Regions from separate parts of the Homo sapiens genome. Here regions 1, 2, 3, 4 and 5 are each reported to be linked to region 6. Evidence: microRNA targets listed by miRTarBase, many of them from high-throughput screens and not tested one by one. Region 6 holds a microRNA gene; each other region holds the end of a gene's coding sequence.
The links. The annotated mature microRNA hsa-miR-548ar-3p reads UAAAACUGCAGUUAUUUUUGC and lies in region 6 at 2,114-2,134, opposite strand. An mRNA with a match to its seed (bases 2 to 7 or 8) in the 3' UTR can be bound and repressed. Matches are read on the target gene's strand: a 7mer-m8 pairs with bases 2 to 8, a 7mer-A1 pairs with bases 2 to 7 and ends in A, and an 8mer does both.

Region 1 (4,205 bases), not on the chromosome of region 6:
TCTTTGGAACATAACTGTCCCATCATTGCAAACCAGATGGGACATGTGTATAGAATGTGATACAGGAAACTCTGATTTGGGGGGTTGCAAATCTGTCCTTCACTAGCGTGTGGTTCCCTCAAGTTCACTGACTTCTTTTCATCTCTCCTTACCAGGCCCACAGTGATAAATTAAATGAGCGAATAGATATATATATATATAGTGTTACATTTTAATATGCCCCCATACTCCATGAACTGCATACACACCACTTAATGGAAGTTATAACATTGCAAATGCAACAACAACAAAAAAGTAAGTGTCTCTTGCCACAGTCATATCCCATCACCACCACCCCTCCCCCAAAAAACTCATCCCTCTCACATGGAGTTGTTCATTAGGTTCTAATTTTTGGTTTTCATGTCAGGAATCCTCATAATGATGTCCATGTGCAGAGAGGTGCACGTGTATGAATATATCCCATCCGTGCGGCAGACGGAGCTGTGCCACTACCACGAGCTGTACTACGACGCAGCCTGCACCCTCGGGGCGTACCACCCACTACTCTATGAGAAGCTCCTGGTGCAGCGCCTGAACATGGGCACGCAGGGGGATTTGCATCGCAAGGGCAAGGTGGTTCTTCCCGGCTTCCAGGCGGTGCACTGCCCTGCACCAAGTCCAGTCATTCCACACTCTTAAAAAGGGTTTCTTGGGAATCAATGTGCAATAAGGTACTACTGTTGTACTCAAAGTCACAAAAGAATACTTGAAGATAGATTTTAGACAGTGTAGTTTTGAGTCTTTAAACAGTAATTTAGTGGTGGTCATGATAATCCTTCTCTTTCTAAGCCATTGAGTATGTATTACTGCTTTGAACATAGAAATGGTTTTTTTAAAAAAATAAGGCTCAAGAAAGATGCAAAACCAAGGATAGCTAGAAAGAAAACACATGTATGACCATGGGTATGATACCTCCAGAAATGTTAACAACTTATTCTTCTGCCATGAGTACCCCTCATCAGGGTTGGTTTCAATGACAGGTTTTGGTGATGTTCCTGACCATATGAAGTGGTTTATGTTTAGAAACATTCAAATTGAGGGACATCATTTACAGCATCGAGTGTGTCAGTTATACATGCATTCATCATTAAATATCCTAGGTTTTATGACAGACATTGAAATTATCACTCAGATGTGTTTAACAGCAAAAAATTCCCAGCACATCCTGGCAAAGGCTTTTATTTCCAACCGTTGCATTCTTCATCTCTGCCTCCCATTGCCCACTGAATGCTTTGCTTTCTGTGCATCAAGACAGAGTTCTAAAACCAGAAAACATCCATCTTGAAAGGTCCAAGAAAAAGCCAAATTCCATATAGCACCACAGAGGAGGCCCTTTGTTTCCCTGCAGTATTTCAACCAGGAACATTAGTATCACATCCACCAGGAGGCACATCACTGGCAAGTAACATAGAATCACAGGGCTGCAGGTGCCCCTGGACACTCCCCGGTTCTGGCTTTTCTGCCTTGTACCTCCTCACCTGCAGATCTACCCTGCAGCTTTTGCATAGTCAGTGACACACTTGACAATTGGCACAGCTGTGCTGGGGAAGACGGGAGACACCTTGCTCCTTCCAAACTAGAAGGAAAGATTTTGGAGCCATCACCCTGTGCTTCTAGGGATGCACGCCTGTCTTTATTATACAGGTTTCTTGCAGGTTTTTATCAGCCAGTGGGAACTCCACAGTGATGAGCACTGAATCTTCACTAAATCTTCCTACAGACATTTAGGAATCCAGTCCTTGCTTTTGCAGATATGTTTTATGTCAGCAGCATGACAAAGCCATATAATTAAATAATTTATGTGAAAGCATTGCTTATTAACAAGGAAAATATGTAGATGCTTCAGAGGGAAAGGCAGCTAGAGGGAAATTTTCATCCCAATATGTTAGCTATATTCAGGGTTGATTTTTTCTTTAATCTCAACTGTCACTGATACATTGAAAAATTTTTGCTATGAATATAGTGAAACAGAAACATTCTGTAATACCTTAATTAAACATGCTATTATTTCAATGTATAACCAAAACATATCTCCATGGTACAGTTAAGACTTGTTGCAATGACAATAGCAGCTTAATTAAATGCGTTCTCCCTTGCAAAATGTATGAATGTCAGGAGAGTTTAGTGGAAAAGTTTTCTTTGTTTCAGGATTGGTTTCTTCTAGACTGTTCTCAGGACTACTTTCTTGAGCAAGAATGGCTTACAGAGACTGAAGGCTTCTGTTTGGTTAGTCTATTCAGCAGATATGGAGCTGGAAAACAAGACATCTCCTATAGCTTGCTATAATAGTGAAGGAGAAATTGGAAAGTTTTAATCACAATAATATCCAATAAAAGCCCATTTTGAGAGTTTTGTTATTAAGTCAATGAGAAGGGATAGGTAACTTTGTCCTATATATTAACTTATGTCTAAATAGACATGGTTAAGCCATGTTCCTTTCTAATTTCTTTTCTTTTCTTTTTTTTTTTTTTTTTTGAGACAGTCTCTCGCTCTGTCGCCCAGGCTAGAGTGCAGTGGTGCGATCTTGGTTCACTGCCAGCTCTGCCTCCCACGTTCACACCATTCTCCTGCCTCAGCCTCCTGAGTAGCTGGGGACTACAGGCACCCGCCACCACGCCCAGCTAATTTTTTGTATTTTTAGTAGAGACAGGGTTTCACCGTGTTAGCCAGGGTGGTCTCGATCTCCTGACCTTGTGATCTGCCTGCCTCGGCCTCCCAAAGTGATGGGATTATAGGCGTGAGCCACCACCGCGCCCGGTCATTCCTTTCTAATTTCTTGAAAAAACTTTGTCTTGTCCTTATGTTTACATGTGTGTAATAATTTCAGCAACTCTGGAATGTGGGTGAGGTGGCTGTGGTGGATGAATATTACTCCCTACCCTCCTTGGATCTTTCTAGATCTTCCAGACCATTAAATGCCCCTGAAGCTCCTTTTATAGTTTTGCAAGTGGATTTACTTGTAGACATCCTTACTATCCAGCATAATCCCCCTTGGCTGACATGAGAACTTGGTTAGAGGAGAATTTATTGGGGTCAGTGTAAATATTCAAGTTCAAAAGCCTCAGAACCCAACACTTTAAAGATTTTTAAATGGAATTTTGTCGTAGTCATTGTACTTTTAAAATAGTACTTTCAGTTTCATTGAGGTTACAAGAAAGACTGAAGAGTACAAAGGAAATTTAGTTACAATTTTTGCATTTATTATGGCCTTAAAGACTCTTGGGAATCAGGCTCTGTTCAACAGTCAATAAATGTAATACACACATTAATATAGTACTGACTGGGCGTTCTTCTATAAAAGTTTAAGTTCTTTGGCTTCTAAGAAAATGTTGGGCAGTTACAGTTAACTTGATGACTACTTCTAGTATTAGCCAAATGGGTCCTAAGTGGCAGCATTTTGCCAGACATTGACTAAATCCTTACATGCCACATTTACTGAATTCCAATAAACATATAGTTCTTCTGTGGAGTAGTTAACAGTAAGTGGCAGCTCACTGAATTTCTCCCAGGTTCTGTCTCTTCCAAAATCCTCCATCCTCTCTTATGAAGGGAAGCTGATAAAAAAAAATCCTCTTGGTGCAAGCTGAAGCTGTTAAGGATTCCTTTTTTCACTCTCAGGACCAACAGACGTTCTTTTGTATTTCAAGATAATTTCACCTGTTGTTGTTGTTGTTGTTGTTGTTGTTGTTGTTGTTGTTGTTGTTACAAAGAAACAAATTTTGAGCAGCAATGACAATTCAACCATATCTAGATTCTCCCTACCTTATTTCTCCAGCCAGTCACACCAGGCAGACGGGTAACCTTTAACAGACCTGGTGTTCTCATGGAATACCGATGCTCGTCCCAGGGAGCTGACCTTTCTCACTATGTCCTTATAGAGCTGCTCTTACAGAGAACTTTGTGCTCAGGACCAAGGGATGGTCAATTAAAAGTTGCATGTAAGCATCAGGCTTGGATGGGCAAGGGAGGGCTTTTATACATCTTTGAACGACCAGGTCTTTCCTTGTCTGCCTGAAGGCAGAGCTTCGAGAAACAGCACTTCCCATGTGTCTGGTCCTCTTGGTCTCTCAGCCAGACACTTAATCAATCCTGGACTCTCCAGTAGTCCTCAGTCATTGTAGCCATAGCATCTGCAAAAAAAGAAATGCTAAAATAATCATTAGCGT
Region 2 (4,000 bases), not on the chromosome of region 6:
ACGCAGCTGGAGCTGCAGAAGCTGGTCCTCTGGCTTCTGTCCCTGCTCAGTCGGCCAAGAAGCCCTGCCCAGGTAAACCTTAAAGGGGGTCAGTGAACTAAGAAGAAGCTTGTCCAGCTTGGAAGATCTGAAAACAAGCCTTCTGTTTAGCTTTAATTTGTAACCATTCATTCATTTAATGATAGATTTGTAATGGTCATAATAATATCTACCTCACAGTGTCTTGCGAGAAGTAAAGAAGATGGAAAAGGAGAAAATGTCCTTTTGGAAGAATACATTTGGGCATGGGTGGTTGGGGATGGGGTGGGACATTGAACAGGCAAAGAGAGGCTAAAATTGAGTGCAGATGGGGCTAGTCCAGGGCAAGTGCTGAAGATGGCAGCTGCTATCTGCAGCTCCTAGGTGCTTTCCTCAGGCTGGGTAGATGGAGCTCTGCTGACTTCTGTGGTCCACCATTGTTTTTCTATCAATTTATATTGTGGCAATCCTAGAGTACTTTGCACTCATTTTTTTTTTTCACTTAATATTGTCTCATAAGCATCTTTCTATATTTGTTCACATCGTACATAATCATGTTTTTGCACAGATACATTAATATTATCATAGTTTGTTTAACTACTTGGCTTTTTCTAACAGTTTTTTTTTTTGAGATGGTCTTGCTCTGTTGCCCAGGCTGGAGTGCAGTGACGTGATCTCGGCTCACTGCAGCCTTGACTTCCTGGGCTCAAGTGATCATCCCACCTCAGCCTCCTGAGTAGCTGGGACTACAGGTATGCACCACGACCAGCTAATTTTTTGTATTTTTTTTTTGTAGAGAGGGTATTTTGCCATGTTGCCCAGGCTAGTCTTGAACTCCTGGGCTCAAGCGATCTGCCTGCTTCAGCCTCCCAGAGTGCTAGGATTACAGGCATGAGCCACTGCACCCAGCCTCTTAACAAATTTTGAATATAACTCCTGTCTTAAAATCTGCAGAATATTGAATTTTTCCAGCTATTTTTTACTTTTGCTTAGCTTATAGATGCTAAAGGATACTGTCATTTGCATTTTTAAAAATATATGTATGAGTGAATAGTTTTCTGGTGTCTGCTTTCTGATTGTTCTTATTTTTTCATTTTATATTTGGCCTTTTATTAATGGGGCCCTCATCTATGCTGATGTGGGACAGCCTTTAACGAGGCCTCAAATTTTCATGAAAGGACCTCAGCAATACTGTGCTTGGATGATATTCAATTTTTGTAGGTCCATCCTCAGCCAGTAGTACAGAGTATATAACCTTTGGGTTCTCTCCAGAGACTTCTACCTCACTCTGTCTACTCTTTTTTTTTTTTTTGGAGACAGAGTTTCACTCTTGTTGCCCAGGCCGGAGTGCAATGGCGCGATCTCATCTCACCATAACCTCCGCCTCCTGGGTTCAAGTGGTTCTCCTGCCTCAGCCTCCCAAGTAGCTGAGGTTACAGGCATGAGCCACCACGCCCAGTTAATTATGTATTTTTAGTAGAGACGGGGTTTCACCATGTTGGCCAGGCTGGTCTCAAACTCCTGACCTCAGGTGATCTGCCTGCCTCGGCCTCCCAAACTGCTGGGATTACAGGTGTGAGACTCTGTCTACTCTTCATTTCTTGCTGAGCTTTTACCAAAGCCCAGTCACAATAGTTTGAAGGATGAGCAGTATATCCACTCCTTTAAATTGTATCCATTCTTCCTGTGGCTCAGGATGGACCATCAGAAGTCTGTATACCTCACCCACTTCATGTTCCCTTTCCCCTTTCTCCCTTCTCCCTTCCTCCCTGCTCTCCACCTACCCAGCTGTGTTCATTGAGTTACATTTCAGTATTTTGTGGTTTATTTTCATCAAGGGGTACCACAAGAAGCAGCTTTATGCAATTAATTTTTTTGTTCTGTTTATTGTAGTCATCCTCAAATGTCACTGTGTAAAGTGTTGTTGTTGTTTTTAAATTCAACTGTCCTGCAGTAACATAACATTTGAGAAACAGAGACAATGTAATAAGTTTTCATAAAGCTAAATTAATGTAGAGAAATTTTTATCATGAAATGCTATCTTTTCAATTGAGGGAAAAAGCAAAAATGTCCTTTTTAAAGTGAGAAATGGCTGTGTTTTCTCCTAATGGATAATAAGAGTCATGCCACTTGTGTTGAGCTTTTTACTTTCATTGTCAACGATATTTCTGAAAGCCCTTATGCTCTGCATATTTTGTTTCTTTTTTTCTAGTCCAGATTTCTCCTGGTGATAATTAAAAAAATTTTTACATTTAATTATTACTATTATTTACACTTACCATTTTACTATGTATATTTTTGTAGTAAGCTATCTTAAATCTTTAATGGAAACAGTGTAGGGTATAAATGCATTTCCTTTACATTGAGAGACTTGCTGGACCTTTACTTGTTTATGTTCTGTTTTTATATCTTATCATTATGCTTTTATATGTGATGTTATTGGTCCTCTGTCATCTTTGTTGCAGTATTTTATTCAATTCTATAATAGTCTACTTTAATCTTAGTTTTGTTGGTATTCATTCTGTAAAATATTTTATATAACCATGCCTTTCTCTGATTTTCACTCATGATTAAGCTGTTAGAAAGTTATCGCATTATAGTTGGAAAAGAGTTTTCTTTGGTAATTTATCGGGGTTTTTGATGTCAAGTCGCATGTCTGTAGACTCTACAAATTCAATGTATTCTAAATTGAATTATGAATTTTCCTTTAGTCTTGTTCCTGCTTTTATTTCCTTATTTTTGAATGTCACCACTATCTACCTAATGACATAGACAAAAAGCTGTAAATTGTCCTATACTTTTTTTTCTCCTTGTTCCCTTTGTCAAATTGGTTACCCAGTGTTGGAGAGTTTCTTCCCCTCAAAAACCTTTCAAATATTTATCCTTCTCTGCCCCTTTCTTTCCACCCTGTACATACTGCCTTGTTTCAAACCCTCATCATCTTCCTGCATATATCCTACAGATGCATAAACTCAGTGGTTTTCAAGTCATCTGTTATGGGAGTTTTTGGTAAAAGGTGCCCTGTTCCCACTGCAGTGATGGTAGCCCTGTTTTAATCTTTAATAGAATAAGCGTTTGTGGATTTCACTGGTCTCCTTACCACTCTTCACTTCTCCTGCCTTCCATCTGGCTGCCTGACATTTTGAAAACAAAGCTAATCATATGGCTTTTTTCCTGCTGAAACCTTCCTTGGTCCTCATCATGTAGGGTGGTATTTGTAAACTCAAAACGCCTGCAGGGACTAGAAAGGTGAGTTAAATGGATGAAGTGAACTGGATGCAAGAGCAGTGGGAGAAGGGAGAAGTGCTGTGGCAAACTGTCCCATCTAAAAGGGACGCCTGCCTCTTGTATCCACGTGGGAATGTGGGCCCACTTTGTCATAGTGCCCAGTTTTTTAAAAAGAAGCCAGAAATTCAGATTGTTATGAGAAATGTTCTGATTGAATATTGACTTTAGTCGAGTTTTTAAAATGCAGACCAACATTGTATGTACTTGACCTACTTGGAATTTCTGGAATGTGCTATTTTGTCTTGTGATTCTCTGTAAATGATATTCCCTGTTTTTTTTTTTTTTTTTTTTCTTTTTTCCTTTGAGATGGAGTCTCTGTCGCCCAGGCTGGAGTACAGTGGCATGATCTCAGCTCACTGCAACCTCCGTCTCCCAGGTTCAAGTGATTCTCCTGCCTCAGCCTCCCGAGTAGCTGGGATTATAGGCATGTACCACCATGCCTGGCTAATTTTTGTATTTTTAGTAGAGATGGGGTTTCACCATGTTGGCCAGGCTGGTCTTGAACTCCTCACCTCAAGTGATCCACCCACCTCGCCCTCCCAAAGTGTTAGTATTATAGGCGTGAGCCACTGCACTCAGCCTGATGTTCCCTCTTTTATAAGTGCCATTCCTTCTTCCTACCTCACAACCTAGCAAAATTGGATTCTTCAAAACGCCAGGTTGGCCTTTCTTGACTCCAAAAGAGGTGACTCTT
Region 3 (4,000 bases), not on the chromosome of region 6:
TTTAAGAAGCCCTGGGAATGAGGGCTCGCCAGTCATCGTCATCCTCTTTTGAGGCAAGCATAATGTGCTGTGGAAACAGGTTACCTCTGCACTGTTGGCAAGAGCAGCCCACACAGTATAACGATTGAGCGTCATGGCTGTGCCCTTTGTGTGTTCCAGGAGGAAACTGAAGAGACATCCTCACAAGAGTCTGCCGAAGAGGACTAGGGGGCGCCAACGTTCGATTTCTACCTCAGCAGCAGTTGGATCTTTTGAAGGGAGAAGACACTGCAGTGACCACTTATTCTGTATTGCCATGGTCTTTCCACTTTCATCTGGGGTGGGGTGGGGTGGGGTGGGGGAGGGGGGGGTGGGGTGGGGAGAAATCACATAACCTTAAAAAGGACTATATTAATCACCTTCTTTGTAATCCCTTCACAGTCCCAGGTTTAGTGAAAAACTGCTGTAAACACAGGGGACACAGCTTAACAATGCAACTTTTAATTACTGTTTTCTTTTTTCTTAACCTACTAATAGTTTGTTGATCTGATAAGCAAGAGTGGGCGGGTGAGAAAAACCGAATTGGGTTTAGTCAATCACTGCACTGCATGCAAACAAGAAACGTGTCACACTTGTGACGTCGGGCATTCATATAGGAAGAACGCGGTGTGTAACACTGTGTACACCTCAAATACCACCCCAACCCACTCCCTGTAGTGAATCCTCTGTTTAGAACACCAAAGATAAGGACTAGATACTACTTTCTCTTTTTCGTATAATCTTGTAGACACTTACTTGATGATTTTTAACTTTTTATTTCTAAATGAGACGAAATGCTGATGTATCCTTTCATTCAGCTAACAAACTAGAAAAGGTTATGTTCATTTTTCAAAAAGGGAAGTAAGCAAACAAATATTGCCAACTCTTCTATTTATGGATATCACACATATCAGCAGGAGTAATAAATTTACTCACAGCACTTGTTTTCAGGACAACACTTCATTTTCAGGAAATCTACTTCCTACAGAGCCAAAATGCCATTTAGCAATAAATAACACTTGTCAGCCTCAGAGCATTTAAGGAAACTAGACAAGTAAAATTATCCTCTTTGTAATTTAATGAAAAGGTACAACAGAATAATGCATGATGAACTCACCTAATTATGAGGTGGGAGGAGCGAAATCTAAATTTCTTTTGCTATAGTTATACATCAATTTAAAAAGCAAAAAAAAAAAAGGGGGGGGCAATCTCTCTCTGTGTCTTTCTCTCTCTCTCTTCCTCTCCCTCTCTCTTTTCATTGTGTATCAGTTTCCATGAAAGACCTGAATACCACTTACCTCAAATTAAGCATATGTGTTACTTCAAGTAATACGTTTTGACATAAGATGGTTGACCAAGGTGCTTTTCTTCGGCTTGAGTTCACCATCTCTTCATTCAAACTGCACTTTTAGCCAGAGATGCAATATATCCCCACTACTCAATACTACCTCTGAATGTTACAACGAATTTACAGTCTAGTACTTATTACATGCTGCTATACACAAGCAATGCAAGAAAAAAACTTACTGGGTAGGTGATTCTAATCATCTGCAGTTCTTTTTGTACACTTAATTACAGTTAAAGAAGCAATCTCCTTACTGTGTTTCAGCATGACTATGTATTTTTCTATGTTTTTTTAATTAAAAATTTTTAAAATACTTGTTTCAGCTTCTCTGCTAGATTTCTACATTAACTTGAAAATTTTTTAACCAAGTCGCTCCTAGGTTCTTAAGGATAATTTTCCTCAATCACACTACACATCACACAAGATTTGACTGTAATATTTAAATATTACCCTCCAAGTCTGTACCTCAAATGAATTCTTTAAGGAGATGGACTAATTGACTTGCAAAGACCTACCTCCAGACTTCAAAAGGAATGAACTTGTTACTTGCAGCATTCATTTGTTTTTTCAATGTTTGAAATAGTTCAAACTGCAGCTAACCCTAGTCAAAACTATTTTTGTAAAAGACATTTGATAGAAAGGAACACGTTTTTACATACTTTTGCAAAATAAGTAAATAATAAATAAAATAAAAGCCAACCTTCAAAGAAACTTGAAGCTTTGTAGGTGAGATGCAACAAGCCCTGCTTTTGCATAATGCAATCAAAAATATGTGTTTTTAAGATTAGTTGAATATAAGAAAATGCTTGACAAATATTTTCATGTATTTTACACAAATGTGATTTTTGTAATATGTCTCAACCAGATTTATTTTAAACGCTTCTTATGTAGAGTTTTTATGCCTTTCTCTCCTAGTGAGTGTGCTGACTTTTTAACATGGTATTATCAACTGGGCCAGGAGGTAGTTTCTCATGACGGCTTTTGTCAGTATGGCTTTTAGTACTGAAGCCAAATGAAACTCAAAACCATCTCTCTTCCAGCTGCTTCAGGGAGGTAGTTTCAAAGGCCACATACCTCTCTGAGACTGGCAGATCGCTCACTGTTGTGAATCACCAAAGGAGCTATGGAGAGAATTAAAACTCAACATTACTGTTAACTGTGCGTTAAATAAGCAAATAAACAGTGGCTCATAAAAATAAAAGTCGCATTCCATATCTTTGGATGGGCCTTTTAGAAACCTCATTGGCCAGCTCATAAAATGGAAGCAATTGCTCATGTTGGCCAAACATGGTGCACCGAGTGATTTCCATCTCTGGTAAAGTTACACTTTTATTTCCTGTATGTTGTACAATCAAAACACACTACTACCTCTTAAGTCCCAGTATACCTCATTTTTCATACTGAAAAAAAAAGCTTGTGGCCAATGGAACAGTAAGAACATCATAAAATTTTTATATATATAGTTTATTTTTGTGGGAGATAAATTTTATAGGACTGTTCTTTGCTGTTGTTGGTCGCAGCTACATAAGACTGGACATTTAACTTTTCTACCATTTCTGCAAGTTAGGTATGTTTGCAGGAGAAAAGTATCAAGACGTTTAACTGCAGTTGACTTTCTCCCTGTTCCTTTGAGTGTCTTCTAACTTTATTCTTTGTTCTTTATGTAGAATTGCTGTCTATGATTGTACTTTGAATCGCTTGCTTGTTGAAAATATTTCTCTAGTGTATTATCACTGTCTGTTCTGCACAATAAACATAACAGCCTCTGTGATCCCCATGTGTTTTGATTCCTGCTCTTTGTTACAGTTCCATTAAATGAGTAATAAAGTTTGGTCAAAACAGATCAAGGAGGGAGACACTCACAAGTCATTTTGTTGCACCCCTTGCACACATCTTGGCACACATGTACATAAAGTGTGTTTTACATATCATACTCCTTCAATCAACTGCCCTGAGCTCGCCTTTCAGATTTTGACATTTAATTCTACAGAGACAATCTTAGAAGAAACATGAAGAACAAGCTGTAGCTCCAAACTACAGAATTTTTACTTCAGGCTAGCACCTACAAAGTTTGTAAGGGAAGTAACTAATGCACTAGTCGTCTTTGAAGTAACATTGGAAAGAGATCCGGAAGATTGATGAATAAGAAATGAAAGCCACGAAGAGTCTCCTAGATAGGAGCCTTTTAACTCTAAAAACTACTAGCAGAGTCAGAATGATTCTACCAAGTTCAAGGTCAACTTGACACTTAAGTTGCTAATTATGAATAAATCTAGGATTTTTAAAAAGCTAAAACTTTCGGTTTTTACTATCACCGTTGTTACTCAAATTTTCTTCATTTAGCTTCTTAGAAGGAGAAATTTGTTTCTAGGAAAAGCTTGCCAATTTTAAGACATCTACTGTCAGGAAATTTGTTAAACGTATTATTTCATTCCTAAATTCATTCACTTATTCTCACAGCCAATATTCTGTGAGTACCTTACTGAGTTGTCCTGAAAAGTGGTTGCATCCTGAAGCCCCTGCCAATACCAAGGACAAATCACAGGCCCTCTCACAAAAAGCCTTTATGGTCACCATCAGAGAGGGAGAATGAGTTTCAACCAATGTAGCATTTCACATGGGAGCGTGGGGAGGGTA
Region 4 (4,205 bases), not on the chromosome of region 6:
TACTACAGAAATGTACATGCTGTTGTCTTCGTGTATGATATGACCAACATGGCTAGTTTTCATAGCCTACCATCTTGGATAGAAGAATGCAAACAACATTTGCTAGCCAATGATATACCACGGATTCTTGTTGGAAATAAATGTGACTTGAGAAGTGCCATACAGGTACCCACAGACTTGGCACAAAAATTTGCTGACACACACAGTATGCCTTTGTTTGAAACGTCTGCTAAAAACCCCAATGATAATGACCATGTGGAAGCTATATTTATGACCTTGGCTCATAAGCTTAAGAGCCACAAACCATTAATGCTTAGTCAGCCCCCTGATAATGGAATTATCCTGAAGCCTGAACCAAAGCCTGCAATGACGTGCTGGTGCTAAATAACAGTCTTTATTATATTATCTAATTTTGACTAAAGAAATACTTTTGAAGTATGACAGTATTAAGTCATAAGATTTAATCTCAACTATAATGGGTCATCTTGACACTTTGCTGTTTGTCATTGTCACGCTTTTGTATTTTGTATCTACTTAAGTTTGTCACTGTGACAACACAGGAAAAGTTGGTTTTCAGGTGAGATTGAAAATGAAGCAAAGATAGGATGAATCTGAACATCTCTCCATCTAGAGCCCAATGAAGGAAGCTTCAAATGAGAACATGATGGAATCAGTAACCATTCAATCTTTTGTCCTAGGATTGGAAAAAAATGTTAAAGGTTTAGGACACACCTAATAGTATGTCCTTTGAATGGGAAGTGTTCTTAATAGGATAAAAACTGGTATTTGCCTCTCCCCAGAGTACTTTTTTTGTTTTTTCATAGAGACGGGGTCTTGCTATGTTGTCCAGGCTGGCCTTGAGCTCCTGGGCTCAAGCAATCCTCCCACCTCAGCCTCCCCAGTACTGGGACTGTAGGTACTCACCACTGCATCTGGCCTTTCTTTGTTTTATTAACATATTTAGTTTTGTTATTATTGGTATGTTTTAGAGCCAAGACTTTAGTTCCAGTGGGATAAGAAGGCATAGAATGTTTTCTGGTTCCCAGTCCATAAAGAATGACTTTTCCAAGAGTTCTAGATGTTTGATTTTCTAATTAATACTTATCAGATCTACAAAAATCATTATTATTTTAAAAGAGTTATTTGAGTTTCTTTCTTTCTTTTTTTTTTTTTTTTTTTTTGAGATGGAGTCTCGCTCTGTCTCCAGGCTGGAGTGCAGTGGCGTCATCTCGGCTCACTGCAACCTCCGCCTCCCAGGTTCAAGTGATTCTCCTGCCTCAGCCTCCCGAGTAGCTGGGATTACAGGCGTGCACTACCACACCCAGCTGATTTTTGTATTTTTAGTATAGATGGGGTTTCACCATGTTGGCCAGGATGGTCTCGATCTCTTGACCTCATGATCCACCCGCCTCAGCTTCCCAAAGTGCTGGGATTACAGGTGTGAGTCACTGCACCCAGCCGAGTTGCTTTCTTACTAAATCCTATTAAAATATGCAAAAATAAGTCAGATTTTAAGGCAAATAAAGTGACATAAGGTGCTTTATATTTTATTTTGGTATATTTAAACAGTGAAAAACTAACTGAAAGCACATGAAGAGTTGTAACTTGGGGGAAAATAGGTAAACATAGCTTCTAGCTAACACAGGAGACCTATTCTTAGCCTTTACTAATTTCAAGCAGTGTATCCCATATGGTATCTCTTGCTCTTCCTTCAACTCCAATAAATTTAATGACTAAATGCCAAGTTAACAAATCAACTTCCATTTGGATTGTAGGTGTGAAGGCACAACTCTAATTGCTATTAGTCTACATGTATTTCTGTAATAGTATTGTGTCATATCAATTTTTAAGATGTCTAAATTTTATGGTCACAAGTTATCCCTCCTCAGTATGAAAAATAAATTAGATATTGAAAAATGTCTAAACTTCAGTGATGGAAAGAATATTTCAAGAAGTTTTTTAACCTAAATACTTTTATTTTGAATTTAAGTCTTTGCACATAAAATATAGCAAGCTTACATATTAAACTATTTACGTAAATGGAATGTAAGCCATGACTTTAACTGAAGTGTTCACATTCACTAATTTTGATAGATTGCTGTCCTTAATAATTTTGGAGGAAATTAAGCCAAATGATTATTGTACTACAGTATTTTCAGAATATGGGAAATCAATTAAAAATGTAATCTAATCTAGTTTAAGATTTTTGTTTAATCATCATGGTGGTCCTACCTGGATAATTTAACTATAAAGACAAAGTAATTCTATTAAATGAACTAACTGAAAATAATAATTATAGGAAGTGATTATTCCATTTTAAGTATTAGAGCTCAAATTGGCTTTATTTGCATTTAGGGAGATCATGTTTTCTTAATCATGCTGGAATTTAAAAATTGTTTTACTTGTATCGAAATTAACCTTGATTTATAACTATTTTTGTAATAAAACAATGACAGCTGTAGTAACTATGATGGGTGTAACAACATTTTTTTAAAGAAGGGAATCTGTTTATCGCTTTTCAAAATATTTTCTAAAGTGGGGGAAGAAAGTTTATAGACTTTCCAAGCACATTTATGGTTTTTTATTACTATTATTATGGTTTTAAAAAGAGTAACTTTATTTCTTTTTGTAAGGAATTAAGTAATATCCTTTACAGTTCTGTGAAAGGACTTATTTTTTAACTGTAATATTTATTAGTTTTAAAATATTTGTATCTCATTTGTAACAATTTGTTTTAATTTTTTATATATATGTTTTTATTTTTAAAAAACATACCAGTTGAATGGGGTTAAAGCTTTCAATATCTTAAAATATTTATAAAACATTTCACTGTTGCAAAATCACTTCCAAAATGATAGCTATCTAACAACTAATTACTAATTTTTAAAGAACAAATCACACATTTAAAAAATCTGTAGAATTTATTTTAACTATGACCTTTAATTGAAAATAAATAATTAAAATATCAGACATGTTTTGGAAAAGTCTTAATTTGAGAACACCAAAGGAAACTACCCCAGAATCTAATGTAGTTCGCTATTAATAACAATGCATTATTGAAAGTATATTGCAAATACATGTTTCCTCATGAAATCTAAGTAATTTTGTTGTGGAATAGTGTCACTGTTACATTTCCCCCATGAAGTTCAATAAACCAGCTTAGCCACAAAGAAATTGTGTTTTATTTTCTTTGTTTGGTTACTGGGTAGAGTATAAAATAAAACAATCTTTTTTTCCTCCTGGTTTCCAGATAATATTATATATATGATACACTTTTGAAAACAACAAAAAGCCCCCAACCCATTGGACAATTATTTTCTTGTATACATTTGAGGTCAAAGAACACTTCAGGAAAAAAACTCAACAAAGTATTAAAATTAGCTGATAACACAGCTTTTGTATTTGTGTGTTTTAGTAATCCAGCTTGTTTTAGAATAGTTCAGTGCAAAAAGCAAATGGTGCAAGAGGAGTTGATGTGTATTTAGACGTAAAAGCATTTAACAGAATGAATAACTATAGAAAGTATGAGAAAAGAGAACGAACTACGTCTCAGGTATAAGATTGCAGTTACTGATTTAGACACCATAGGATTAGGGATGTGGGGGCCTCTGATGTTGATTCTGCTTCCCCTGGTCAGTTTATTTTACGTATAAGTTACCCTTGTGTTCAAACACAAAATTGACATTATTCATGAAGGACTGCTTTCTTAATCAGATATTAAGAAGTTCGTCATGTATTTTGGGAGCACGTTTGCTACAGCCTGTGTGGCAAGGGCGAATGCACTTGGTTTGTTGGAATAACCTGATTTATCAAACATTTATCAAGTATGGGTCATGTGTTCTCTATTTGTGTTAGTGGAGCTACATAGACACTGTCCTTGAAGAACTTACAAAATAGTATATGAACAAATAGGAATTCTACAATATACTGTGATCAGTGTAATCAAAGAAGCATATACAAAGGACAATGAGCACAGAATATGGAGTGGTCTTTTGACTTGGATATGGGAGCAGTAGATAATCAAAAAGCTTCACAATGAGTGGAAGCATTTATGCAGCATCTCAGGGTAAATGTGAGGCATTCTCCATGTAAAGGAGAGGGAAGAAAGTCATCCCAGGTGAATGCACTGCAGGGCTCAAGAGTGGAGTTGAATTTGGGGGGAATGACTGCTAGGTCAGTGTGAGTATGTGATAGAATGGAGATGT
Region 5 (4,000 bases), not on the chromosome of region 6:
TCACCTTACATTCTCCATGGTTTCTCAAAAATTCCCAACAGTTGTTAATAGAAAGCATTTGCAACCTCCAGCAGCTCTCTAGGATACAGAAGTGTGGGTCTAACAACCTTGAAATCATTTAAGGTGACAACAATTTTTTTTTTTTTACTTTTCATTTTTGCAGTTTCATGTCATTTTATTTTGGTCCAGCCATATCTCCTTGTAGGAGAAAAAAAACTGAGTTATTCTGTTCTTCCTGATTGTCAATCCATTACACTACTTTATCCATTCCTTTTTGCCCTCAGGTTTAAAAAAGAAAAAAAAAAAAGCCTTCTTGACAACCTTAGCATTTTCTATAAATTTAAGCTTATTGTGAGCTTGAACATTTCAAACACTTCTATATTTCACTCTCCTCTCTGTAGCTTTTGTCATGCCAGTTTTCCCTTCTTTTGCAAATGATCTTTGACAACCTGGCTTCATCAGAGAGCTCTGAGATGCCTTAGATGCCCATTCTCTATCTTATTGGCTAGGTTCTTTTAATTTAAAGAAAAAAATAATTTGTAGAATGTCATCTAAAAGTTTCCATCCTTTTATGGTCCCCCTCACAATTTGAAAAACTCGAAGAGGTAGCTGGCTAAGAAGCAGAAAGGCCCCCTTTTGGTTCTGGGGACTCAACCGTGTTCTTCAGTCTGGTCTTGCATCCTCTCTTCCCAGCTGAGAAGCCTGAGGCCCCGAGTAGATCAGATAAACCGGGGAAGACTTCTACCTGAAATGGTCTGATTCACGGTTCAGAGGGGGAACAAGTCTAAATTTGAGACGTGCTTCCACACTATTCTTTCTCAAACTTTAAAGTGAACATACTTCCTTGCTTGCAATCTGTTGATGGATCTCTTCTGCCTACAATATATACTACAAACCCCTTAGTCTGGCACACAAGGCCCTGTGTGACCAGCTCCCATTTCTTTTTCTAGCTTCCCCAACCCCAAATGCCTTACTAAAAGAACTTTTTTCTCTAATGCATTAGGCTGTTTCATACCTTTGCTCAGATTATTCCCTCTCAGCCAGATCCCTACCTCCTGAGAACACCTATTCATCTTTTTAAAGCTCAAAATAAAAATAATGTCCTCAAATCTCTGCAATTGAGTGCTCCTTTATGCCCTCTTTAACCTTTATTTTGTCTTTACATCTATAACACGTTACAGTCATTGTTTACATATCCATATGCCTGACTAGGCTGTGAACAACTCTAGGGCAGAAATAATGCTTTATTCAGCTTTACATCTTTCATCATATACTACAGCACCAAAAAACTTGCACTGAATAAATGTCAGACTGAAATCTGCTTCCCTGTGACTTCCTCAAATCCTAGTTCAAGCCCTGGGATCCAGATAGACAGTGCCAGCATTTCAAATAATATCTAAAGACTGTCCCAGTCCCAAGTCTTCTCCAAGCAAAACAGCCTTAACATCCATGTTTTAAAAACCTTTTTATCCACGCTGTCCTTTCATCCAAGCACTTGAGCTTAGTGACTTTTTATAAAATTAGGCACCAAGTCCTAATGAGTGCTGAGCCCCTCAGGGTAAAAAAGTAACCAAGGTCACTTTGCTTCTCATTCATTAAATAAACGCCTGATGGTGACTACTAAGTGTCCAGAAATTCTAGGCACTAGTGATACAGACATTAAATTTAGTTTCCTTGTCCTCAGTGACTTCACAGTCCAGAGAAGACAATGATAGTGGCAGGGCTAGAGCCTAAGCCCAATATGCATGAATGCTAAGTAATACTTCCTCAAATCAACTCCCTTTTTAACAGCCACTTTATCATCTTAGAGCATACTGAACACGTACTCCTTGAGGCCTTTTTCATAATAACTACTCTCAAGCCAGCTCTCTGCAACCTAACCCTTGAATTGTATCTTTTGTTGATTATTTTTTCAAACCCAGTTACAGGATTACTATATTATTCCAGTTGATTGCATGTGCTGCTCTTGGTCCTGTGTGCTACCTTGTTGAATGTGAATTTCCATGCTGACCCTCACAGATCTGGTCCATAATCTAACCTGAAGACCATAACTCTAACTTCATTTAACTTATTGGTTAAAAGCAATGAGGATAACAGAACTAAGGCCCAACCTCTAGAAAGCTCCATCCTACTTTCTTATTCACAATTTGATACAATACATTAAATATACCCCTTATCACCTTATTAACATTTATTATTTTGAATAAAACTATGGAAACTTTGGATAAATCATGCATAACGAGGAATTATAAGCTGGTTTTTAAAAATAACAATCATTAAATATCCATTATAAATATTAATTTTATTTTAAAAGAATTGGAAGATGTTACATATATTACATACTACATATAATGGCACATGTCAGCCTTTTAAGCTTAAAAATAATCTTTTCCCAAACTGGGATTGATTTATACCCAAGTATAAAATGACCCTTGGCCTATAGCACCAACCCAGGCCCAGAGGAAAAGCCAGTTTTGAACCTGTCTGTCCTCTGGCACTGGGCTTCCTGATATGACACTGAGGGTCCTCTCCCTCTGGTTTTATTCCCTGGCAGTATTGAGGCCTGGCACAGGGACCCATCTTACTGTATGCTGCAGGCCTGGGGAAATCAGGGAATCTAGAGGGGGTAGGGTCCTCTAACCATTTTATAATGAAAAAAAGTTAAATATGTTCCTTATTCTGTGTTTTTGATTTATACAACTATAACAAGACTCTACAAGACAGAAGGAGCTTAAAATTACTGAAATACAATTTCTCTGCTAGTTCTTCTCTTTGGAAATTGAAGTCTCATAATAGGAGGAGCCTTAAAAGTCATCTAGTTCTGATTGGTAGCCTGTTCCACTGTCACCTCCCTGTCCCAGATTTAGGTATAATTCATTCAAAGTTTTAAATGCCATCCATATGCCACATTTTTAGACAAACACAGAAGCTTAATAATACTTTTCATTTTCTTTTTCTTGTTTCATAAGGACAATTCCTGCCAAATGTTCTGTCTTATGACTCTCCTCCACTTCAAAGTATGTTTAAGTTACACATTAAGAATCCAAAAAAATACCACTATGGAATTTTCATAAGCAATATCCAACCAATCAGTAAAACACAGTACACAGTGTGAAAACTTTAATTTATTCCCCTCCCAAGTATCCAGAATGTATATCTCTTTAGCTTTGAGAAATGAGATACTGAAAATACCAACAGAATTGATCATATGAAAGAAAGAAAAGCACATACGACACAGGAAACATCCCTAAGTCCTCCCTACCCTAGTAGTGCAAGTTAATGGTAAGTTTCTGGCAATGTCACCTTTCATTTGATTTATAAAACTTTTACAGGACAGATTTAAAGTGGAGATAGGCCTCTGATTTTTATTTTTAAATCCTAGCAGGTTTTTTTTTTTTAAGAGGCTACTATATTAAATGACAATGCATTTTGAGTCGGGGAGAAAAAAATTAAAAACCCAAAATTTCTTTCTGTTTATTCAAAATAAAAATACACATAGAATTATGAAAATATAGGTTTACTATTTCCACCACGTAGGTTGATGCTGCTGTTGAAAGGCTTACAAACTGTTTTTCAAGTTTTTAAAGCTCATCTCGATCCCTCAATAGAGTATACCTATATTCACTGGGTGCTAGTTTCTGGAAGGAGCTCTCAGGTGGACTGCTTGCTACATCTTGGGCTTGCTACAAAAGAAAGAATAAAACATTTTTATACCAATATAGTTTATGGTGCTATAATATTTTAATAAGTGTATTCGATGAATAGTAGTTCCCCTATAATTATTTGCTTATTAATCAATAAAAGCAACTGTGTGCCAAAGCAAGATATTTAAATGTGAAATCTTGCTTTCCTCATTTCAAATGCTCTTATTGAGATTCTCCAGGGCAGGGTTGCCACAGGGCCATTAACTGTGGGCTTGTTTTACATTTGCTGAGGTGTGGTGGAAGGGACCAAAATACCTGACACCTGGGTGCTTTCCTAGACTAGTCGACAGAGACAG
Region 6 (4,000 bases):
TGACTCCCCTGCACTGCTCATCTCCCCCAGCCTGACCCTGGCTCTTCCTTGCTCTCTGTCCGAGTTCTGACTATTTAGCTGGTTTTCTCTTGCTCTGGTTTCACACTGGGATAGGGTGCAAATTCTTGTCGTCTGAGTCTTACACCCTGATTCCTGATTTTGTCCTTAAAGACGCAGTCCCTGATTCCATTTTCCATTCCTAGTTCTCCATTCCGATCCATGACAGTTTGGAATCAGTACACAATTCAACAGGTTGTCTTACATGTGCAATGTGAGAAAGCTGCCAAACAATTATCCACATTTCTTAGGAAAGGGAGGCGTGACTGTCATGGTCAGTATTTTATATTGCTATACGCTAAGTATTTTAAAATAAGCATGTATAACTTCTATAATCAGAAAAAAGGGTTTAAAAACCTTTTTGCTTTGGTATAATTAAAAAATACCTTCATGGGTTGAAAAGTTAATGCTGCTTTTGTAAGTACAATAAACACTAGGAGATTCTGTTGCAACACTTTAATAAAACATCATTTGCTTGAACTTAAGCTATTGTCTAAATACGAGTTAAGCATTTTCTTAAAGTACAGGTAAAAAAAAAAAAACTAAGACTAAAAGTTATATTACTTACAGGATTACTAGGATATAAATCCACCAGTTTATGAGAAAGATAGAAAAGTTCTGTTCAGGAAAAAGCAGAAAAAGAACAATTGTTCGTATCACATGTAATTTAAGACATGATTTCATTACAACTCTTCACAATCATATAATTCTGCTCTTACAGCAATGATTTCATACTTGTCTTTCCTTCTAGATAAAAAATTAACTCTCTAACTGGAGAGTTAGATGAAGGACACACTGTGGGCAAGGTGGGAACAGACACCCCCTAAGACAGCACTTCCCGAATACTGCAGAGGATACAGCAAAGCACCTCACCTCTCTTAGAAGCTCATGCCTGTCACACCAAGGGCCCATTATGGACCATCATAATCACCCACAACCAATTTGGCTGAACAAACTTTCAAGTTTATCAGATCAATGATACTATTTAATCTTGAGAAATGTGTAAATCCTGGCATTTCAAGATGATGTTTCCTGCATGCAGACTTGGATTCAGTAGACCAGAGCAGCTGGAGATGCTGCATTTCCAACCAGCTTCCACAAATGCGATGTTGCTGGTCCACGAACCACACTCTGAGCAGCAGGGATTCGGTGAGGGTTTTCCTTCCTGACAGAGCTCACCATTCAGTTTAGAAAAATTTAAGGACAAATGCATCCCCAAACACAACTAAATGTCAAATGTTAAAAATACGGAAAACATGAGCAAACAATCTGCTCCTTTCCAATTTCTAAGTAGTTATCAACTCTTACCATATCAGATTTCCAGTGGAATTTACAAAAAAAAAAAAGGGGGGGGGAGGCAGAACTGACACCCAACAATTTAAAGCTAACAAACCTTGAAACATAAATGATATTTGAGAAAAGGTAGTAGGAAGCAGTGATAAAGAACTAATTGTTCTGATGGGAAAACAAAATTGGCCATTTGCTACTTTCCTAAACATTTCCTCCCCAGTTGTTACTTTTATAGTAGGGTTCCATTATGTTGTTACCTGCAATCTCAACTATCCAGAATTTCAGAGACAAAATTTCAAGTTACAGAAAAGATTTGTTTTATGTCTAAGAATTACTTTAATTTAAAAAAAAGTCTTACCATTGGCTTTATTCAGCTCTACAAGCGTCCCTATATGTACAGGTAAACAACTTGCATGGAAAGGATCTTTCTCCATTACTCTGAAAGTTAAAGCGACACATTACTACCCCCAAACCAGCAGGTGACAGCACTCACGACGATCGGCTATGTGTAGACAGTCATTATGGTATCACATATGATGCTGTGGGTTGTAACACTTCACTTTCTTCACTCCATTATCTTCAGGTTGATTCAGTTAAGGCCATAATTAAGTTACAAATGAAAGAAAAAATTCTGGTTTATTTGAAAGGAATAAAAATAAACATTATCACATACATTTACTTTAAGTCAACAGAATTGTAATACATAAAATAAGTAGGCCGCTTATTTAAAAGAATCAAAACCAACAGGAAATCCTATTAGGTTGGTGCAAAAATAACTGCAGTTTTACCACTACGTTCAACAGCAAAAACTGCAATTACTTTTGCACCAAACTAATAAATAGGTTATGTGTATTTGCCAATTAAAATTTTTGTAATTTCAAGGATTTTAAACCGAACCAAGATCTACAAAAAATAGCATATGTCATTTAGCTAAAGTTTAAATTAGGTACACTGGAAAACTGATACATGTGGGAGATGGCTTAGCTACTGCGTGCAGCATATTAAACACCTAGTATCTACAGTGTGAGTCTCATAATTGAGAATAAATTTTACAAAACAATGTGCCAAAATGGAATTTTCAAACTTGCAAATTATCAAGATCAGTAAGAGCAACATGTATATCCCTCCCAAGTTAATGTAATAAATCTACAAATATGCACAAATTCATGTCTGTAAATTGCTCTTTTAAGACAGCACCCTGTTCAGTGCTCTACAATTGGTAAAGATAACTTAAATTATCATCTAGTTCAAGATTATTCAGAGAGCACGTCCGTGAATCACCTAGGTAAGATGGAGTGAACTCCATGTTCCTACAGAAAAATGGATGGATATACTTACACAGAAGTAAGCTTGTAGCACATTTTAAAATCACAGTTATAATAATGTCTCTCAGCTAAAGACACTACCACATCCAGATTCTCTTGCAAGCCATCTACAGATTCAGGGATGACCGTTTCACTAGGCTTATTATACTGAAACACATAGAAATGTAAACATAAACTCAATGAGCAAAAACAAAATAAAATGTGGATTCAATTTGTGTTTGGCCCAAGTGGTTAAAACATTTACAAGAACAAATGTGAGAGCCTCTGAAAACTTATAACTTTAGGTTTTATAAGTACTCCTCTCAGTAAGTTTAATTCCCTTCTCAATTTTAGAACAGAATTCCACAGCGGGACGTATTTCTCAAAGTAAACATTCAGGAAGCATAACAAAAAAATCTTCATTTCCATGCAACACCATTCCATTTACATTTACTTGGTAATTCAATCTTTTAGTATAAGGAGTCTTTCAGAGGAAAAAGGTATTTTTGAAAGCTTTTTTTTTTTGGAATCTTATGTATCTTAAACGCTCTATTCTTAAAAATGTGCTAAATTTAAAAAGTTTTAATTTTGAAAACTTAATATAAGACTAGATGCCAAATTTTATGGAATAAGATATTTACATAAAGCAAGTGCTAACTCTTTGGTTTTACTTACTTTTTTCAATTTGTTCTCAAATAGAAAACGCAGCAATTCCTGTTCTTCATTACACAGCTTGCTAAGGGGTAGTGATTCAAGAAGTTCTTTTTCTTAAAAATGGTGAGAAAAAAAAGAATATCCTCATAATATTTATAGAGGGGAAAAAGCCAACAACTAAAAATATGATTCTACAGTTCTTGGTCTAAGTAAATCAAACTCAAAAGAGAACATAAGATCAAAATGTGCAACAGAAGCTGACACAGTGGCTCCAGGCCTGAAGACGGGAATCATCTGGTGGGTGGAGGCTACTCTTTCAGGGCTGAGGCAGGTCCCCAGGTGGCTCTTGTCACCTAAGAACCACCAGCCTCCGCACTCCTGACTGCGTGGATCTTGCTCTGCTGGGAACAGGGGAGCCTGTGTACTGCAGGTGCTAAGCAGGACCTCTGGCCACTAACCACTAGATACCAGCAGCAACCTCTCAACCTCCCTCCCTGCCCCTAAGCTGTGACAAACAACATCTCCAGACATTGCCAACTGTTCCCGGGGCAGGGGGCGGCAAAATCACTCTGGTTGGTTGAGAACCACTGCACTAGGCTAAAATATGTTAGAATCCCATTAATCCAACCACTCTATTTTCTGTTTCCCTTGTTGACGCACCTCACACCACTGCCAACATACTTGGACTGATTCTC

Region 1: the mRNA of ST6GAL2 is a reported target of hsa-miR-548ar-3p. Seed matches in the 3' UTR shown: 7mer-A1 at 2,346-2,352.
Region 2: miRTarBase lists ZC3HAV1L as a target of hsa-miR-548ar-3p. Seed matches in the 3' UTR shown: 7mer-m8 at 634-640.
Region 3: the mRNA of HMGA2 is a reported target of hsa-miR-548ar-3p. The part of its 3' UTR that is shown has no 7-base or 8-base seed match.
Region 4: miRTarBase lists RAB33B as a target of hsa-miR-548ar-3p. Seed matches in the 3' UTR shown: 7mer-A1 at 2,696-2,702.
Region 5: the mRNA of ERP44 is a reported target of hsa-miR-548ar-3p. Seed matches in the 3' UTR shown: 7mer-A1 at 3,319-3,325, 7mer-A1 at 2,205-2,211 and 7mer-m8 at 213-219.

Annotation. Positions count from the first base shown.
Region 1 is chr2:106,803,151-106,807,355 of GRCh38, reverse strand. ST6GAL2 (ST6 beta-galactoside alpha-2,6-sialyltransferase 2) reads left to right here. Exons shown (of 6, transcript NM_001142351.2): 6 at 407-4,205. The coding sequence ends at 678. Among named protein-coding and RNA genes, the nearest start is that of ST6GAL2, 81 kb to the left of the region's middle.
Region 2 is chr7:139,022,780-139,026,779 of GRCh38, reverse strand. ZC3HAV1L (ZC3HAV1 like) reads left to right here. Exons shown (of 5, transcript NM_080660.4): 4 at 1-72; 5 at 220-1,074. The coding sequence ends at 236. Among named protein-coding and RNA genes, the nearest start is that of ZC3HAV1L, 11 kb to the left of the region's middle.
Region 3 is chr12:65,963,086-65,967,085 of GRCh38, forward strand. HMGA2 (high mobility group AT-hook 2) reads left to right here. Exons shown (of 5, transcript NM_003483.6): 5 at 160-3,206. The coding sequence ends at 207. Among named protein-coding and RNA genes, the nearest start is that of HMGA2-AS2, 16 kb to the left of the region's middle.
Region 4 is chr4:139,472,743-139,476,947 of GRCh38, forward strand. RAB33B (RAB33B, member RAS oncogene family) reads left to right here. Exons shown (of 2, transcript NM_031296.3): 2 at 1-3,867. The coding sequence ends at 384. Among named protein-coding and RNA genes, the nearest start is that of RAB33B, 21 kb to the left of the region's middle.
Region 5 is chr9:99,979,031-99,983,030 of GRCh38, forward strand. ERP44 (endoplasmic reticulum protein 44) reads right to left here. Exons shown (of 12, transcript NM_015051.3): 12 at 155-3,683. The coding sequence ends at 3,582. Among named protein-coding and RNA genes, the nearest start is that of STX17, 74 kb to the left of the region's middle.
Region 6 is chr13:114,242,675-114,246,674 of GRCh38, reverse strand. MIR548AR (microRNA 548ar) reads right to left here and starts at 2,170; the gene lies at 2,114-2,170. CDC16 (cell division cycle 16) reads right to left here. Exons shown (of 18, transcript NM_001078645.3): 7 at 3,327-3,418; 8 at 2,686-2,819; 9 at 1,706-1,785; 10 at 626-675.